Linked DNA regions of Homo sapiens. The protein of the gene in region 2 purifies or fractionates together with the protein of the main gene of each other region. This does not show direct contact. Each region holds a gene or a part of one and is shown on either strand. Other genes may lie near its edges.

Evidence for each region. The genes of interacting proteins can lie anywhere in the genome.
Region 1: the proteins of TMEM213 (region 2) and ALG11 purify together in Homo sapiens (affinity purification with mass spectrometry; 2 studies listed by BioGRID and IntAct, with this or other methods). This does not show direct contact.
Region 3: the proteins of TMEM213 (region 2) and METAP2 purify together in Homo sapiens (affinity purification with mass spectrometry; 2 studies listed by BioGRID and IntAct, with this or other methods). This does not show direct contact.

Annotation. Positions count from the first base shown.
Region 1 is NC_000013.11:52,029,398-52,034,131, reverse strand, and holds the end of ALG11 (GDP-Man:Man(3)GlcNAc(2)-PP-Dol alpha-1,2-mannosyltransferase), read right to left. Parts: coding exon of another isoform or gene 3,027-4,734; 3' UTR 532-3,026; downstream 1-531. Other genes in the region: UTP14C (U3 small nucleolar RNA-associated protein 14 homolog C), read right to left, coding at 3,027-4,734. UniProt on the Homo sapiens protein: GDP-Man:Man(3)GlcNAc(2)-PP-Dol alpha-1,2-mannosyltransferase that operates in the biosynthetic pathway of dolichol-linked oligosaccharides, the glycan precursors employed in protein asparagine (N)-glycosylation.
Region 2 is NC_000007.14:138,793,022-138,801,024, reverse strand, and holds the start of TMEM213 (transmembrane protein 213 precursor), read right to left. Parts: upstream 3,032-8,003; 5' UTR 2,921-3,031; coding exon 2,839-2,920; exon of another isoform or gene 2,829-2,838; intron 1-2,828.
Region 3 is NC_000012.12:95,477,152-95,484,182, reverse strand, and holds part of METAP2 (methionine aminopeptidase 2), read right to left. Parts: intron 969-7,031; coding exon 903-968; intron 1-902. UniProt on the Homo sapiens protein: Cotranslationally removes the N-terminal methionine from nascent proteins. The N-terminal methionine is often cleaved when the second residue in the primary sequence is small and uncharged (Met-Ala-, Cys, Gly, Pro, Ser, Thr, or Val).

The sequences.
Region 1 (4,734 bases), on a different chromosome or scaffold from region 2:
GATCATTCTGTAAATGGTAGCAATAAGTGTATCAACACTTTGACCTCCTCTGTGTCTAGTAACATTTGCATATAGTACAACTGAGCACATAGCACCAGAATATTGGAACAGATGCTTCTCCAAAGCCAAGGGTTGCCTTACATTTAGAGTGGGAAAAGAGGAAAATGAGTTAGCAGAGGAGCAGCGGGGAGGGGGGTAAATTACAGGACATAATTTGCTTCTAAAAATTTGTGTTTCGTGTTGTAGTTATATAATTAACTTTTCTATTGTACTGATTGACAGATTTGGCACAGACATCCTCTCATTGTGAATATATATGAATATATCAGAGTTTTGGACTCTGGGGTATATTTACATAAACACAAGTATTCTGAAAGCATTGATAACCACACTGGTGTCTCTTAATTTTGTCTATAAGATGACCTTATAAAATCCCTCAAGAATTATTTAAATCAAGTGTACGAAGCTCTGCAGTTTTTTGTTATGTCTGAAATATTCATTAAAAAGTTTATTAAACCTGACAGCCTCTTCTTAATGTTTCACAAGCAAGACAAACTTTTATTTTTGTTTCTTCTTTAATTGGCATATGGAGCTTGGGAATATTAGTAGGAGAACAAGGAGACTATGTGAGGCATATAAAAGGCACCACACTGGAAAGAATCCAAGAGAATGAAAAATCACTTCTTTAAATAATATTTAGACACAGACTTTGTATCTATATTAGATATAAATCATGTCTAAATACAAATCTAAATAATATTTACAAATAATTATTACACAAAACCTATGTAACACACACTTTATAGTACACAACTGTAAATAAGAATACAAATCTCCACTGCTGTGGGTTCAAAACAGCAGGCTTGGACCACTCAAAAATGACATCTGAGAGGAATTAATAGTCATCCTGAAAGTTCTGCAGACAGACGCTAGCGGACAAACCACTTTGACACTTTTCATGCTATCATTCAGAAAAAAATAGAATACATGTAATACCAAATTAGGAACACTGATAATGAACATATATGCAAATTATATCTTCCAATGATATATCTGTGATATATGAAAATAATTTTGAAGAAATAAGCTTAAAATATAATTTACGGAATTCCAGAAAACTTTTTCTTCCTTCACTACATCCTCAGGAATAAGGCAATTGAGTGGATAACAGTTTGAATCTTACTTCAAAGTGTAGCTACAAAGTAAGAAAAAGCACTGGGCCAGGAGTCAGAATATCCAGGTTATAATCTTGATTCTTTCATGAAACAGCTTTGTGACACTGAAGGAATCTACTAAATTCTTTAGATTTAAATTGTTCTTGTCTGTAAAGCTGAAAATAAGAGAGAACTGGGCTAATCTGTAGGGTTCCTTTCACTCCAATTTCTACCAGTCTTTTTCTAAATGGGATCATCTCTAACAAAAAGTTACAATGGTGTGTCAGAACATCCTGTGACTGACCCTCTGTTTGCTGCTTTTTGATCTGATGACAGATGGCTTGGAGATGTATCAACAACATAATTGGGAGTAGATAAGCTGGCCACATTGATGAATGACTGAGAGGAGACTGCAAAGAAATAATATACCGTTTCATTTGCCCCTTAACACAAAGATGAATCAGCCTGTGGATGGGGTCAATTCACTGAACTAGAAAGGATTGATTATATATGCATAAAGTGCAAAAGCTATAGGTCTTTATAGCCATATCTGCTCACACATATATTCACTTTTCCATGCTAGTTATTCAGGATAGAAGGTGCATTAAATTTATACCAATTCCTAGCTACTGGCCTAGTAACTAACAATCTACAGAGTTGTAATGCATTAATAAATATAGGATTATAGAAGACATTTAGTATGTGATGTTACCTTTAAGTAACTCTCATAATTTTCTTTTTCCTTTTTTTCTTTTTTGAGATGGAGTTTTGCTTATTGCCCAGGCTAGAGTGCAGTGGCACAATCTTGGCTCACTGCAACCTCTGCCTTCCAGTTTCAAGCAATTCTCCTGCCTCAGTCTCCCAAGTAGCTGGGATTACAGGTGCCTGCCACCAGGCCCAGCTAATTTTTTTGTATTTTTAGTACAGACAGGGTTTCACCATGTTGTTCAGGCTGGTCTCAACTGCTGACCTCATGATCCACCCATCTCGGCCTCCCAAAGTGCTGGGATTACAGGTGTGAGACACCGCACCCAGCCCTTAACTGTCGTAATTTTCAAAGTAGTTTCATCTACTTTCCATCTCATTCCAACTCTAAAAGGTAGTAAGGACTGGAATTAACAACTCCAGATTACAGATGAAGAATCTGAGACTCAGAAAGATAAAGGAGCAGCTTTAGTGTCAAAAGGTCAGAAGTTTGTAAATGAAGAAGCTGAAGGTAGGCCCAGATGTGCTAACTGCTTGCCCAGCGCTCTTTCAAAATGCCACCTTGCCATCTTACAATGCATTATGCTGGTAATAGATACCCTGTGGATGTATCTGTATATCATATCATCACTGTCAGAAAAACAGCCTGAGGTTCTCTTGAATGACTTAAAGCTGACTTCCAGGCTGAGATGCGGCACTGTTAAGGGACAATGAGAGACCCACACAAATGTGCTGACAGCATAAACAAAAACAATTTTCACCAGTACCTAGTATGGAAAGGATTGCTGGCAGCACCTTGGCCTCTACCACCCTACACACACCTATAAAGCATCAGTCAGTCCCACCTCTTGACTGTATGCTTTGAGAACACGATTAAACAAGTCTGTTTAAAATTTCTTTTTTAAGGAAATCATTAGGTATATTCAAAAGGGTCATCCACTGTATTGTTTAGAATTTAAATGTACTAGAATTTTTCTGTGTTCTAATGTCTGATCAATTCTAAAATGCTAGTCAATTAATGGTCATCCATTTTCTTTTTTTAAAAAATGTGGCTCAACTACATGCAATGTGCTGAGCCAGTTTTGGAATCCACCCTGTAGCAGAGTAAAACTGGACCAAAGGAAGTGGAATCAGGGCCCCTGACTGTCACTTCTCCAGCTACACAACCTACAGTTTTTCTTCTTTATTGTGACGTGTGGTGATTCGTTTTGGATTCCTCTGTATGACAGGCAGGTCTGACCTTGAGGAAGACTGGTAGCCCACATCCTCTGCTTTTATGGGCTTAATGATATGGCCTGGCTTGGTGACGACCTTGGGAGTAGTCAGCTTTTGGAAAGCCCTCTGGGTGTTCCATGTGGATCCTATAGGGGTCTGGATGGTCCTTTCAAATTGCCGATGGTGGGTAAATGGATATGGAAGCACTTGTACCTGATGAGCTGCTGCGTGGATGTTGCGCTTCTCACTGATAATCACATTTGGCAAATTCTTATCTTTTCTTGGAGGACCCTCAGGGGCTTTAATGAGAAACTGGCGTCTTTTCTTGGCACTGGGCTTTAGGCCCACACCACCCCACTCGCCCCAGCCAGGTAGTGTCAGGTCCACGTCCTTTGGCTTACTCGCCTCCACAGCTTCCCTCTTCTCTTTCAAGAAATCTCTGATGACATCATCCCCAGCAAAAGCTTCCTTTATCATCTGCCTTTGGTCTCTCTCCTCTTCATCTTCCAGCTCCTCTATTATTGTGGGAACTGCCAAAGACCTCACGGAAGGAGACTGTGTGGTCAGGAAGTTCTGTAGGTTGATCAGTTGCTCCTTCTCTTTCTTCTCCTTAGGGGCATCAGGCCGATTATTTGGGGTCCTCTCTGACTGCTGTCCTTCTAACACAGGTCTGGGAAGCTCCTTATTTTGAAAACAATCTTCTTTTCCCAGCTCTTCTAGCTCTTCCAGAGTTTGTACTCTCTCTGACCTCTGTAGCAATAGGGGTTCCGCTTCTTCTGGGGCAGGTTCCTCTCTCTGGACCTGGGGAACAGTCCCCTCTGAACTTGCTTTTTGCTTCCTGGACTGATGTTTTTCCTTCAATTTCTGAGATAGTGCCCTCAATTCGGACAGCACCTCCTGGCTGCTAGAATCTTTTGTTTCTTGACTGCTTGCTGGCTCAGCATCCTGGTTGAGCTCAGATCTTTTTCTAAGGGATTGCCTTTCCTCAAATTCTCTCAACAAAATTTCTTCCTCTGCCACTGGTCTTTCTTCTGCCTCACTTGCAGAAACCTCATGAGCTGCAAGCTCTGGCACTTGCTCAGGGTCCTCCTGTGTTGCAGCCTCTTTGGTGTCACTGGTGCAGCTCCTGAACATCCAGGGATTCGGTCCGTCCACATTCATCTGCACTTCATTCGCTACATGAGGGACAAGGAGTTCTTCCACTTCTGTGCCTCCCTCCTCTTCCTCACTCTCAGAGGCTACCTGGAGTTTCTGTGTCAGTTCTTTGTTCTTGGCCAACTGTTCCTGCATAGCTTGGCGAGCCTCCAGGTCATATTTGGCCATAATTGCCTTTGACTTGGCCCATTTCCCACTGTTTTGGTGCTTAAGGCTCATTCTTTCCATCATTCTGGCATTTTCAATTTTTTCCATTTCTTCCAGTGCCACAGTTGGATTAACCTTCTGTAGCTGCTCAAACTCTTTTAAGGCTTTCTTGGCCTTTCCTTTCTTCACGACTTTGTGATACTTTTTACTTTTGATTTTCTTCTCTTTTCGAGCCTTGGCCTCATAGTAGGACTGCAGAGCCCGAGCCCTCTGAAGCTCTGCTCGGTGCATCTTTGCCTCTTCCAGGCTCATGGCTTGGAGAGAGGCCTTTTCCATGGGAGTCAGTAAAGGATCTGTC
Region 2 (8,003 bases):
GCGGGGTCCTTATAAGATGAGGAAGAGGCCAGGTGCAGTGGTTCACACCTGTAATCCCAGCATTTTGGGAGGCCGAGGTGGGCAGATCACCTGAGGTCAGGAGTTCAAGAACAGCCTGGCCAACATGATGAAACCCTGTCTCTACTAAAAATACAAAAGCAGCCGGGCGTGGTGGTGCATGCCTGTAATCCCAGCTACTTGGGAGGCTGGGGCAGCAGAATTGCTTGAACCCAGGAGGCGGAGGTTCAGTGAGCTGAGATCACACCATTGCACTCCAGCCTGGGTGACGAGTGAAACTCCGTCTAAAAAAAAAAAAAAAAGAAGAAGAAGAAGAAGAAGAAGAAGAAACATCAGCAACACACATGCACAGAGAAAAGTCCACGTGAGAACCCAGTGAGAAGGCGTCTATTTGCAACCCAAGGAGGGAGGCCTCAGGAGAAATCAAACCATCAACACCTTGATCTTGGACTTCCAGCCTCCAGAATGATGGCTGTCAAAAAAAATTAAACATCATAGAAGCAAGCCCAGAGACTGCCAGAATACGCAGCACATAGATTGATTCATGAGCAAGGAGTGGAAAGATAAAAAGGACTTTAGCATGAATTGTTAAAGTCCTGTTGTCTTGAGGTGTGGGATTGGGTTAGGGATCTGAGGCATCCAGGTTCCTGTCCATAACTGACAATAAGAAGAGAGATGACCTCTAAGTCCATACTGTTCAATACGGCAGCCACTAGCCACCTGTGGTTGTTTAAATTTATTAAAATCAAATTCAGTAAAAAAAACTCAGCTTCTTGTTTACATTAGACCCATGCCAAGGGTTCCATTGCCGCGTGTGACTAGTGGCTACCATATTGGAAGCACCACTCAGACATGGGACATTTCCACCCTCAGTGCAAGTTCTATTATTAGACAGTGCTCATGCTGACCTAGGTAGATGGAAACCAAGAGATGGATTGGAAGAACCTTCCTAGAAATTATATTGCTGTTCGTTCTGCTTCTTGGGGAATGCAAAAAGGAAAAAAAAAAAAGTGGTGGGCATGGAAACTCTCAAGGTTCCCCTGGCTGTGGGTCAGTGTGTCCTTCAAGGGAGCTTGTTGTCACAGCAGGACGAGTTCAGAAGAAACCTGCTGTTTAGCTAAAGCCATGAAGTTGCTGCTGAGACTAATTTTATGCCACCCAACCCCCAAGCCACTCCAATGTCCTGCTTAAAGTATAGTAATTGCCTCGATGCAATCTGTTACTGTAAATTATTTACAGCTAAATGGCTTAGAGCCTGGTCTTTATTTGTTTTGGAGAAACTGATTCCTCACTATTCTAATTTTCCTTATGACTCAAATAACTTCCTTGGCCCTGACTTTCATTTCACCTCTACACCTAGAATGGAAGTTGTCCTCTTCCAAAGTGAGTGGAAAAAAACCCTAGTTGGCTGAATGCTAGGGTTAGGTTCGAGCTTATGAAATTGCCATTGTTATAGGTGAAAATTGTTCAATATCAGCAATTTTCTGTGGTTCAAATGGAATAGCCCCGGTGAAAATTCCTAAGAATTTAAACATCGCCCTCCTCCCTTATAAGCAGAGCCAGAAGCGAGGGAGGGACTGGCCCTACTTGGGGCTATTCCACAAGAAAAGCTGCTGGGAAGACCCAACGATTCAGTGCAGTTAAACTTGTCTTCTGATTCTGAGCTCCCATCATAAGCAAGGCACTGTCGGGGTAAGTAGAAAGAAACTCAGCACTCTTATTTGGGGAGGGGTGAAGTTGGAAAATAAAATGAATGTGCTTACCATAATTGCTGACATTCACTGTGTGTGTTCTATGGGCTATTTCTAAGTTCTTTACATGAAATTACATCAATTCGTCTTGACAAGCACTATGATTGTCCCCATGAGATAAAGGAGGAAACTTGGCATAGAGAGGTAAAGTCATTTGCTCGAGGTCGCATAGCTAGTGAGTCATGGAAGCTGGACCTGGGTTCAGGCTCAGCGGCTCAAGAGTGCACGTCTTGAACCTCAACACCAACACCCCTGGCAGTGGCTACAGAAGAGAGTCTGAGGATGAGAGGGGCAGACACAGGACTTTGGGGGCAGGGTTGGTTTTGGGAGCAGGAGTGTTGCAGGGCATAGAGAGTGTGGTGGTGTTCTGAGGTGGCTGAGAACAAGATCAAAGCCAGGAGCAGAAGATGGTAACCAAGGTCCCTCTGCCGTGAGTTGCAGAACCCGGCCTGGCAGGGCAAGGCAGGGGATGTAGATCAGCCTTCCAGCCTCCACAGGAAAATGGGGAGATAACCCAGCATTTCCAGTGCCCGGGGAGGCAGGAGGGTGGGAGACAGTGAATGGCAGCCCTCCTGGCAGTCAGGTTTTGTGAAAGTCGCAGAGAAAGTACAAGGGGCAGGGAGGGATGGAGGACTTAGGAAAGGGAAGGTCAGACACAAATGTGCACAGGGAGGATTGCAAAGCACGACAGCCCAGTGGGGCTGAGAAGGAGCCTTCAGGACACAGCGGACCAAGAGATATCATTTTGGTCCCCTGATGGGTGAGACTCCAGCAAATAACTTTTTCCTTTCTTTGTGGCAAAGGCCAAGAGAGGTGGCTGCTCCTGCCTTAGCTGAGGAATTGAGTATCTGATCTCCGTCTCAGGCCAACCTAAGACCCCCCCTGCCCCAGCCCCACCTCCCACCCCCTGCCTAATCCTTCAGATGAGAAAGTTCTGTTTCCTCCTTCCTTTGCGCAGGACCAACCCTGGCCAAAGAATCTTCCCCCTCCTCCTTCTTTCCCTCCCACCTCTCTTCCCTCCTTCCCTCCCCCTTCCCAGCCTGGCCATGAATAAAGCTCATAACGCTACCTGCCGAGCAAGCCGAGTGGAGGGAGGCAAAGGCCAGGCTGAGGATCAGGGTGGCCCGGGTGGCAGCGGGGAGGCGCTGCATGCTGGAGGCTGTGCTGAGTGCCCGGTGCAGGTGAGCCGGTCCTGCGGAGTTGTGCCGAGTGCCTGCTGCAGGTGAGTCGACTCCCACCTGCAGGAGCTGGAAAGCAACTCTGCCAGAGGTGAACTTATGCTGGGTGTTTGGGGGAAACACCATGGGGTGGAGCAAAGGAAACTTGGCCTGTCACACCTTCTCTCACCTCTCTAGAAGGGAAGCCAAACCGTTGGCTGAGGAAGGAAGGGAGGGGCAAGCTGTGCCCTTCTCCCCTGAGCGCAAATATTGTCCTTATTGAGAAACAAGGGGAGGACAAGAGAGATCTGTGTCATGCTGGTTCCTGGGACATGAGTTTGCTGCCTCTCCCATCTGCAGGTGTAGCATGGATGCTCAATTCCATTTGGGCCAATATTCACTGAGCACCCACTATGCTGAAGTTGGGAGATACCTGCTGTCGAAGTGCGTTAATTACAAACACGCATCATTCAACCCCAGAACCGTGTTTGAGGAATGGCTTGGGAGGATAAAGCACTGTGGGTTTCAACAGTGGAGGCCACATCTGCTGATGGGATGCTTCAAGAAGAAAATGGCATTTGAGGTTGGGCATGGGGGCTCACCCTGTAGTCCCAGCACTCTGGGAGGCTGAGGCAGGTGGATCACTTGAAGTCAGGAGTTCAAGACCAGCCTGGCCAAAATGGTGAAACCCCATCTCTAATAAAAATACAAAAATTAGCCAGGTGTGGTGGTGCATGCCTGTAGTCCCAGCCACTTGGGAAGCTGAGGCAGGAAAATCGCTTGAACCCGGAAGACAGAGGTTGCAGTAAGCTGAGATGCTCCTGACCCTGCATTCCAGCTTGGCCGACAGAGGGAGACTCCATCTCCAAAAAAAAAAAAAAAAAAAAAAAGAAAATGGCATTTGGCCTGGGCCTTGAAGGATGGCTAGAATTTTGACAGGGGGAGAGGGGAAGATGGCATTATAGGTAGAGGGACAGATGAGCAAAGGTCCAGAGGTAAGGAAGTGTCAGAGGGTGGCTGTACCAGCAGCACCCAGAAGCGCAGGTGAGCCAAGGCATGTGAGGTGGGGAGGCAAGAGGAGAGCTGTGGGCTAAGCTTCTGCGTGCCTGGTAGAGGAATTTGAAACAAAGTCAGGAAGCAAAGGGGAAGGTTCTGTAGAGATTTTGAGCTGAGGAGTAACTTGACTAGAGCTCTGCATTCCGTCTAAAACATTTATTGAAGACCCACATGTATATAAAAGGTCTCATCCTAGGCACTGGAGACTGAGATGACTGAGACACGCCTCTTCCCCTTGAGAGCACAGTGCAGCAGGGAACCAAACCCGGAAGAAAGAAATTTGATGCAACCTGGCAAGACTCAAATAGGGGTACCTTCCACTGTGATGGGAATAAAAAGGAGGATGGGATGAACTCTGCCTGAGAGGTATAGGGGAAGGATTCACAGAGAAAGTGACATTTGGGCTGGGTGCTGAAGTTTGTATGTGCAGATTAGAGTTGATGGGCTTTTCAAGTCAAAGGAATAGCACCTATAAAGGCGAGGGAATCGTCTGTGTGCACACAGCCTGCCATGTGTGGAAGTGTTCCTGCGCATGAATGGGCCTGGTAAGGGTGAGGGGTGGACTCCAGCTCTGTGGAAAGACATAGAAGGCGTGAGTAAGCCCCAAGGAAAGATTTCCTAGTGGAGTGTAACAGCCCAGGGGAGGCACTTTTTTCTAATTGGCTCTAAGATATAAAATAGTGGTGGCCTATGTTCCTGGATTTGGGGATAGGGCCAACGTGCCCTAGGAAGGGTGATTTTCAGTCAGTGCACAGAAGTCCAGTTTAGGCATTACCACTAGTTGAACATTAAACAGTTGCATGCCAGGCCAGGCTCTCGGTGTGGGGACCTGGGGGTGAGAAAGACCACACAGCCCTTGTGCTCAAGGAACTCAAGGTCCCCACAGAGAGGACGCTGCTTAGTAGAACAAATGCTGTCCTCGATGTTTTCCTCACAAGTAAACCCTGCAGTGGGCTTCACAGGGCAGGACTGATTTATCCAATGGGTACTAGGGATAACAGCGGTACGTGGAATCCCCAAGATTTCCAAGGATCTCAAAAATGTTTGAGACCTGAGAAAATATTCTCAGATCCAAAATTTGAAGAACAGACCAGGCATATTGGCACACGCCTGTCATCCCAACACTTTGGGAGGCCGAGGTGGGAAGATCACTTGAGCCAGGGAGTTCAAGACCAGCCTGCACAACATAGTAAGACCCTGCCTCCGCAAAACAAACAAAAAAAAACACAAAAAAATTACTTGGGTATGGTAGTGTGCACCTGTAGTCTCAGCTACTCAGGAGGCTGAGGTGGGAGGATCACTTGAGCCCAGGAGGTTGAGGCTGCAGTGAGCTGAGATGGCACCACTGCACTCCAGCCTGGGTGACACAGTGAGACCCTGTCCCCAAACAAACAAACAAAAATTTGAACAATCAAAAACTGGGCAAAATAAATGATTGTTTCAAAAGCAAAGTTATACAGTTCACTTGAAATGTTTAAACGGAAACGATTTAATGTGGGACGCTGGGTGCATTTTAATGTGTTTGACGTGAGCAGAGCCTGTCCCTCCTATGGAATCGGAACCTGAGGTATGCAAACATGTAAGATGGCCTGCCTGGGGTTATTGTAGTGGTGGATTGAACAGCATCTGCAGCCTAAGCTGAGACCATCCTATCAAGTCGTATCAGGGAAAGCTTTTCTGGCAAGCAGTGGATGTGGAGGAGGGGGATAATGTGTTGGCCCTCCCTCCCTATTTTATCATTGTTATGTGATGTCGGACTGTTTTAGATGAGCTGTTTGTAGGACAAACATTCTCCTATCTACAGATGGAAGAACTTTGTTATTCGAAAATAGTATAGGCTGGGCCAGGCACGGTGGCTCAGGCCTGTAATCCCAGCACTTTGGGAAACTGAGGCAGGTGGCTCATTTGAGGTCAGGAGTTCGAGACCAGCCTGGCTAACATGGTGAAATCCCATCTCTACTAAAAAAATTCAGAAATATTAGCCAGGCGTGGTGGTGCATGCCTGTAATCCCGGCTACTTGGGAGGCTGAGGCAGGAGAATCACTTGAACTGGGGAGGTGGAGGTTATAGTGAACCGTGATTGTGCCACTGCACTCCAGCCTGGGCAACAGAGTGAGACTCTGTCTCAAAAAAAAAAAAAAAAAATAGGGTGGGCTGGACTGGCCAATGATAACTATTAACCCCAAAGAAAGGGCTGTGTGTGTGTGGCCACTTTTTACTTTACGAGTGTCACCAGTATTTGCTGTTTGTAGCAGGTCTACAACTAACAACTCCATGTGGCCCATTTCCTCACTCATACATTTTGCATCAGGTTTACTTTGGAGCGCATATCAGGAAGTTGCCTTACTCAAAGCTAGACTTTCTCAAGACTTTTTTTTTTTTTAAATGGGTGAGATAGGTATTTGGTTACACACACTATTTTAAAAGTTCAGGCTGAAATGTCTGTGGCTAGGCACCATGGTGGTGGTTGGAGAGAGGAGTAGCCAAGAGAGTGGGATTCCAGGGCTCTTACTGCTTCCAATTTCACCTGTTATCCCTGATAAGATTTCATGTGAAAAAGAAAAGAAGTAGGCAGAGAGTTTCCAGGGCTAAAAGATGGAAAACCTGCAGTCTGTGGCCTGGAACGGCCCAGGGAAGAATATTTCATGTTAATGAAGCTTCTCTTGTGATTCTGATAGGCCCCGTTGCCACCTGTCCATCTCGGGGAAAAGACCTCTCACCTTGAACTTGGGTTTTTCATCTCCAGTTAACCCAAAATCTATTCAGAGGAGAATTGTGGCCCTAACCAAGCCTGTGCCTGCCAAGCCCCAGCTCCCTCACAGAGATGGGGTTGATGGCTCTTCTTGCTCCTGGCTCTGTCAGGATCTGTTTTTACAAAATAATGTCAGGCTCTGGGTGGTTGTGGGACCGAAACATCTAGATGTGGACCTGAGCAGCACTTAGTTTGTGGAGGAGTTAACCTCACTCCCTGCCCTTCAGTGATGGGTCTGTAATTTGGAGAGAACAAGAGGTTCCCTTTTAGGAAACCTTGAGAACTACAGCTGTTAAGATCATGCCATAGAGTTAGTTGATCAAAGTAAGAAAGTCAGCAAGGAAGTCCTGGAGTCCACCATTTGGAATAATTTTTGAACACTTCCCAGGATGACTAATTTAGCTTGTTCAAAATTGCACTGGGAGGCGGTGCAGCTATGGTCCAGACACGCGGAGGTTAACACAAAGGAGGTCCTTCCTCTTGGCGAAAACAACCTTCCACCTAGGTCCTGTATCTTATTCCCTCCCATCTTCTCTGAAGTATATTTCTTAATTTCCAAACATACGGAGGTTTTCTAGTTATCTTTTTGTTATTGATTTGTAGCTTAGTTGCACTGTGACCTGCGAATATACTTTGATGATTTCTATTTTTTGATGTTAGTTAAAAGACACCATATGACCAATTTTTGTGGCTCTTGAATGTGTCATGCAGTTGTGGGGTCAGTGCTCCGGGTAAGTCCATTAGATCAAGAGTGCTAATTGTGTGGTTCAGAACATCCATATTTTTCCTGTCTTTTAAAATTTGGTCTAATTATTCTGTTGAATACAGAGATGATTGCGGGTTTCTTTCTTCCCTGTAGTTTTGTCAACTTTTGCATTCAATATTTGAGGCTGTAATTGAGGTACAAACAAATACGGAATTTTGACAACTTCCTGGCAAATTGAACCTTCTTTTAAAAAATCATTGTGTAATATCCCTCATCTCTTTTATATTTTTGAGATGGAGTCTCTCTCTGTCGCCCAGGCTGGAATGCAGTGGCACGATCTCGGCTCACTGCAACTTCCACCTCCCGGGTCCAAGCGATTCTTCTTCCTCAGTCTCCTGAGTAGCTGGGATTACAGGCGTGTGCCACCACCCCCGGGTAATTTTTGTATTTTTGGTAGAAACAGGGGTTTCACCATGTTGGCCAGGCTGGTCTTGAAATCCTGACCTCAGGTGAGACTCCCGTCTCAGCCTCCCAAAGTGCTGGGATTACAGGTGTGAGCCACT
Region 3 (7,031 bases), on a different chromosome or scaffold from region 2:
ATTTTAGCCTGAAAAATTTTAAAGGAAGGCATAACCAGACATTCAGTGGTCTACAACAGCCCAAATGGCATCCAAGATTAAAACTTACATGTTGTGATTCTCAACCCAACCTTTCTTCCTCAACACTACGAAATCTCCCTTCAGCCTCCTTAATATATTTTCGGGCACCTGATGATGTTTGGTTGTGGCACTTACAGAAACTCAAAACAAGCAGGATATTTTATACAAATCTGATCGTACAATATAAAAGTTATTATTAATAATAAAGTCTCACCATATGCACACATCTTAAATAACGGGATTCCTCATTAAATACTCATCAAGAATCTCATAATTTAAAAGCTGGAAGGTAAATTACAAACAACGCTTACCCTACCACCACCATGGCACCACTTCGGCCATTCTTGACAGAATTATTCTTTAAATTATGCAAGTTTTAAATCATAAAATTTTTAGAAACTCATCCCTAACTTGCAGTAAAATGCAACCAATTCATATCGACATCCCTTAGCTAACAGCTAAAGAAAATAAAGGATTGTTAAACCAAAGTTATTAAACTAATAAATAATTATTAGTTTCACTAAATTCTGCTTCTATTAAGCCTAAGTTTATTTCCCTAACATATATCAGGACCTTAAGCAACTTCAAACCTACTCTTCAAACCTGTCAGTGAATAACCACTTCTTTTTTTTTTTTTTTTTTTTTTTGAGACAGAGTCTCACTCTGTTGCCCAGGCTGCAGTGCAGTGGCACAATCTCAGCTTACTGCAATCTCCGTCTCTTGGGTTCCAGCAATTCTCCTGCCTCAGCCTCCGGAGTAGCTGGGATCACAGGTGTGAGCCACCACACCCGACAGAATAAACACTTCTAATATATCAATTAACATTAACTTAAGACACTAACGTCCTCTCTTCTTCTTCTTCTTTTTCTTCTTCTTTCCAGTTGCTCCATCTCCATCGCCATCTCCATCTAAGAAAAGACATTTCAAGTACATGTTCATTTAAACCTCATAAGCAGAGGGACAAAGCAAGTACAAGGAGACAAGTATTTGCTCTATTCAATAAATGAACAAACGTTAGTTTATTTTATCTTGTTTACATTTATTCTTTCACTGAAATAAGAAATAGGAAGCAGCTACCAGGTGTGGTGGCACATGCCTATAGTCCCAGCTACTAGGGAAGCTGAGGTGGGAGGATCACTTGAGCCAAGGAGTTGGAATCCAGCTTGGGCAACATAGTGAGACTCCAACACTAAAAAATTTAGAAACAGGAAGCAGCAGTTTAGCAAAGTGGGAGGTAACGTGATCTAGGACTTACGTGGGTTGAACCATATGAAAATGCCAATACTTGACCATTTTTGGTCAAAATTGCCACTTCTTTTCTTTCTTTTTTTGAAACAGGGTCTAGCTCTGTTGCCCAGGCTGGAGTGCAATGGCGCAATCTCAGCTCACTGCAACCTCCGCCTCCCAGGTTTGAGTGATTCTCATGTCTCAGCCTCCACCTCCCAAGTATCTGGGATTACAGGTGCATGCCACCATGCCCATCTAATTTTTTTTTTTTTTTTTTTTAGTAGAGATGGAGTTTCGCCATGTTGACCAGGCTGGTCTCGAACTCCTGACATCAAGTGATTTGCCAGCCTTGGCCTCCCAAGTCCTGGGATTATAGGCGTGAGCCACTGTACCCAGCCTCAAAATCACCATTTCTTATGTTCAATCTTATGAAATTATCAAAAACCTAGCAGGCAGAAGAGAACAGTAGAAGTACAAATATTAGGCTAGGTAAAGTGGTTCACACCTGTAATCCTAGCACTTTGGGAGGCTGAGGCAGGTGGATCACTTGAGCCCAGGAGTTTGAGACCAGTCTGGAGGACATGGTGAAACCCTGTCTCTACTAAAAGTACAAAAAATTATCCAGGTGTGGTGGTATGCGCCCATAGTCCCAGTTACTTGGAAAGCTGAGATGTGGGAGGATCACCTGAGCCAGGGAAGTCAAGGCTGCAGTGAGCTGAGATCGAGCCACAGCACGTCAGCCTGGGTGACGGGAGGGAGATCTTGTATCCTAACAACAACAAACCCAAAACACAAATATTGCTGACTTATTCATTATGGATTTTTAGATTCAAAAGCCTAACAAAAGGCACACGAAAAATTATAATCTAATTCACATATCGTGCACTGTAACGTTAACAGTAACCTTCTTCACCCCATTAAATGTTTGTTGGGCTCTTAAGTGCCAGGCAATAGGGACAGAAAAATAAGATAGTTTCTGTTCTGGAGAAACAATAGTTTTTTCCAGACTAAAACTGGTTATGAATCTTGAAGTATTTGTTTTAGGTTGTGACTAGTGTATGTAGCACTATACCTAGTGTATGTAGCACAACCTAAAACAAATACTTGAAGATACATCACCAATTTTAAACATATACTAAAAATCTTTCCATCTGGGTGACCTTGGGCAAGTTATTTAGCCTCCCTCTACCCTGGTTTCTTCATCTTTAAAATGGAACAAAAAGGTCCTTCTTTGATACTTTCATCCTTTTGAGGCTAATTACCTTATTCAATGTCCAATGTCTGTATTCAGTACAGAAAAACAGCCACCATTTATAGAACTTTGTGCCAGGATGGCAGCAGAGCCAGGATCTGAGTATTAATCTATATATGTTTATAGTTCCAACCATTATACCATGTTGAAATTTGTGCTTTTACATGTCTTTTCTTCACAGTATCCCAGCATATTCTTCATAGGCAGAGATGGTTGGTTTTTTTGGTTTTTCTGTGACAGGGTCTCACTCTGTTGCCCAAGCTGGAGTGCAGTGGCAGGATCACAGCTCACTGCAGCCTCAATCTCCCAGACTCAGGAAATCCTCCCACCTCAGCTTCCTGAATAGCTGAGACTACAGGCACGCACCACTATACCTGGCTAATGTTTTTTAATCTTTTGCAGAGACAAGGTCTAAGTTGCCCAGACTGGTCTCGAATCGCATCTCAGCCTCCCAAAGTGCTGGGATTATAGGCATGAGCCACCAGGCCTGGCCAGCAGAGGCTGCTTATGTTTATTTGTGTTACTACTATGCCCAAATCAGTTGATATCTGTTGAATGACAACTGGAAATCATATTTTAAAAAAAAGAGTCTCAAGCTTTTAAGCTCTGCCTTGCACTATCTAGAAACATTAATTCTAAATGAACCATAGACCTAAACATAACAGCTAAAAATATATAAAACTTCTTGAAGAGAACACAGAACATCTTTGTGACCTTAGAGACAGCAATGACTTAACTTTTTAGACAGGACACAAAAAGCACTACCCATAAATTTAAAAAACAGATAGATTGGACTTTATCAAAATTAAAACTGTCCTATAAGCAATACCATTAACCAGGTGAATAGCCATCCCATAGAAATATCTGTAAAACATATTATCTGATAAAGAACTTGCAACCAGAATATACAATGAACTATTACAATTCAATAGGATGACAAATAACCCAATAAAACATGGACAAAAAATGTGAACAAACACTTTACCAAAGATAAAGGAAAAAGCAAATAAAAACATGAAAAGATGCTCAATATCATTAGGGAAGTGCATATTAAAACCACAATGACAAAGCACTACATACCCATTATCAAAGACTAAAATTTTAAAACAAATACCAAGTCCTTACAAGGATACGAACAACCTGAAACTCTCAACCATTGCTAAGAGGAATGCAAAACAGCATAGCCACTTTGGAAACCAGACAGCTTCTTAGGAGTTTAAACACATACTTACCATATGACAGGCAACCCAGTCCTATTTACTCAAGAGAAATGAAAACATATCTACACATAGACCCATATGCAAATGTTCATAGTAACTTCGTTCACAACAGACCAAAACTGTAAACACCCCAAATATTGTTCAATGTAAAAGGGTAAAACATATTAGGAATACTACTTGCAATAAAAAGGAATGTGCTATTGATAAATGCACAACTCGATGACTGTCAAAAGTATTATGCTAAGTAAAACAAGCCAAACACAAAAAACTACATACCGAATAATTCCATTTATAGGATACTCCAGGAAAGGCCAAAACTAGGGTCAGAAAACGTATCAGTGATTGCTAAGGGTTAGGTATAGTGCAAGAGAACCAACTACAAGAGACACAACTTTTTTCTGGAGATGGAAATGTTAAATGGAAATAGTCTGTATCTTCCGTCGTGGTAGTAGTTACACAATTGCATACTTTGTCAAAACTCACCAAACTATACACTTAAAAAGGATGACTATTGGGGCCAGGTATGGTGGCTCACGCCTGTAATCCCAGCACTTTGGGAGGCTGAGGCGGGCGGATCACTTGAGGCCAGGAGTTCGAGACCAGCCTGGCCAACATGGTGAAACCCTGTCTCTACTAAAAATACAAAAATTAGCTGGGAGTGGTGGCGGGCACCTGTAATCCCAGCCACTCAGGAGGCTGAGGCAGGAGAATCGCTGGAACCCGGAAGGCAGAGGTTGCAGTGAGCTGAGATCGTGCCACTGCACTGCAGCCTGGACAAGAGTGAGACTCCGTCTCAAAAAAAAAAAAAAAGAGTGGTGACTATTATTTTAGGGAAATTATATGTTAATGAGCCTGACTCAAAATGTATTGAATGAATTACCTCCAGCACACTGTCAGATGACCACAGGATCAACTTTTTATACCAATACCACAGTTTCCAATTCAGCACATCTAAAATTAAACTTAGTACCCTCTTCTTTGCCTGCAAACCTCTCCCCCAATGTCTAACTGGCTCTTTCCCAACTTCACTATTTCAGTCAACAGCACCAACATTCTGTCACCCAAGTGCAAACTCCCAGAGTCCACTAATGCCTTACTCCTGCTCCCAGAATGCAAGTCTCCAAGTCTTTTGAATTCTGCTTCCACACTACTGTTCACTGGATCCTTCCTCTCCATGCCTATTTATGACTATCAGTTTACATCTTCATTACCATATGCCTGGGCTATTTCTAAGAGGCCTCCAAAATGATCTCCTCCTTGCCTTTCCTACACACTTCCTCTCCTCTAAACAACCCTGTATACAGGTAAAGCCTAAATTATTATTTCATAACATTCCTTTTTTGTTAAGAGACAGGGTCTTACTATGTTACCCAGGTTGGAGTGCAGTGGCCAGTCACAGGTGTTTTCGTAGCATACTGAAGCCCCCTGGACTCAAAGATCCTCCCATCCCAGCCTCCCAAGTAGCTGGGATTACAGGCACCAGCCACTGTGCTTGGCTCATAACATTTCTTAAAAATCCTCTAAGGCTCCCTCAATCTATCACCTCATATGGCAAGCTTGTATTACCACAATGCTTCAAATGTTTTCTCAGCATTACCCCAACCCAAAATAGTTCCTTTGTTTGGTTTTACTCAAGTTCTATTCCTTCCAATGAGCCTTCCTTCGGCATTCAGCCCACACTTATACCACCAAATTTCAATAAATTTTATTACAGGTACCCAAATACCTTTTCACTTCTAGGTTTTGTCTGTCTACCACATCCTTAGTTTTCTTTATTTTTTCTTATTTTTTGAGACAGAGTTTCACTTTTGTTGCCCAGGCTAAAGTGCAATGGCGCAACCTCCACTGACAGCAACCTCCACCTCCTGGGTTCAAGCAATTTTCCTGCCTCAGCCTCCCGAGTAGCTGGGATTACAGGCACCCACCACCACACCTGGCTAATTTTTTGTATTTTTAGTAGAGATGGGGTTTCACCATGTTGGTAAGGCTGGTTTTGAACTCCTGACCTCAGGTGATCCACCCACCTCAGCCTCCCAAAATGCTGGGATTACAGGCGAGAGCTAACACACCTGGTCTAGTTTTCCATTAGGAGAAAGATCTTGAAACACTAGCTTTCCATTCCCTCAAAGACCTAACAACAGGTAAGTAGTATTGACTGACTCTGATTACTGAAATAACTACAAATATTCCTAAAATCTTCTTTAATACATTGAAGATTTCCAACCTGATGGGCAACTTTGTAGAGATGTAACAGAACAAGATAACACTTCAAGATTAGCACTGTGATTTTTTTTGGGGGGTGGGGGGAGGTGGACGGGTATAGACATAGGGTCTCACTATGTTGCCCAGGCTTGTCTGGATTACAGGCATAAGCCACCACACCCAGCCAATATTTTTTAACTAGCCTGACAGGCCCAGGAAGCATTATGATACCATATACACAGTGGGTCTATAGCAATCTATTATATTGCCTTGAATTTACAAAACATTTTCTTGTGAAGAGCTCAAAATAAGTTCATAATCTAAAGCATAAGCCAATGTAGAACAGAGGTTTAAGGAAGAGGAAAAGCTAGTAATTCCCTTGAATCTTGGCACTTTTTTCCACCAAATGTTCACTATAAGCTTCTTGAAGGCAGAGAACATACCACTCTAAAGGAAAACAACTACTCTACATTACCCTAACACAATAATTACAGCCCCAACTAATGGTTAAAGACCTAACCCCAGGCTGGTGGTGCTTGAGGGGGAGCAGATGTTCTCAGTAGTAGGCAGCTACAAATAAAAAGAATGGGAAAGCCCCATTTTTCCTCCGCCAAAAGAGGCTGGAAAAAAGTTAAGTTTTCTTACCTGTCTCTTCCTTCACTGTTTTACTGATAACATCAATTAGCAGTTGCTGTCTTTAAAAAAATCTTATTGTACCCAAACACCCAGAAGGAGCTAGGGTCAAGGAATTTATAATAAAACTTAGTGCACTCCTATACGATTCTTTCAGAATGAAAAGAGTTAATTTTGGTATAGAGAGTAAAAGGAACAGGCCGGACACAGTAGCTCAAACCTGTAATCCCAGCACCTTGGGAGGCTGAGGTGGGCAGATTACTTGAGGTCAGGAGTTCAAGACCAACCTGGCAAAACCCCATTTCTACTAAAGATACAAAAAAATTAGTTGGGCATGGTGGCAGGCGCCTGTAATCCCAGCTACTCGGGAGGCTGAGGCAGGAGAATTGCTTGAGCTCGGGAGGTCGCAGTGATCCGAGATCACGCCACTGCACTCC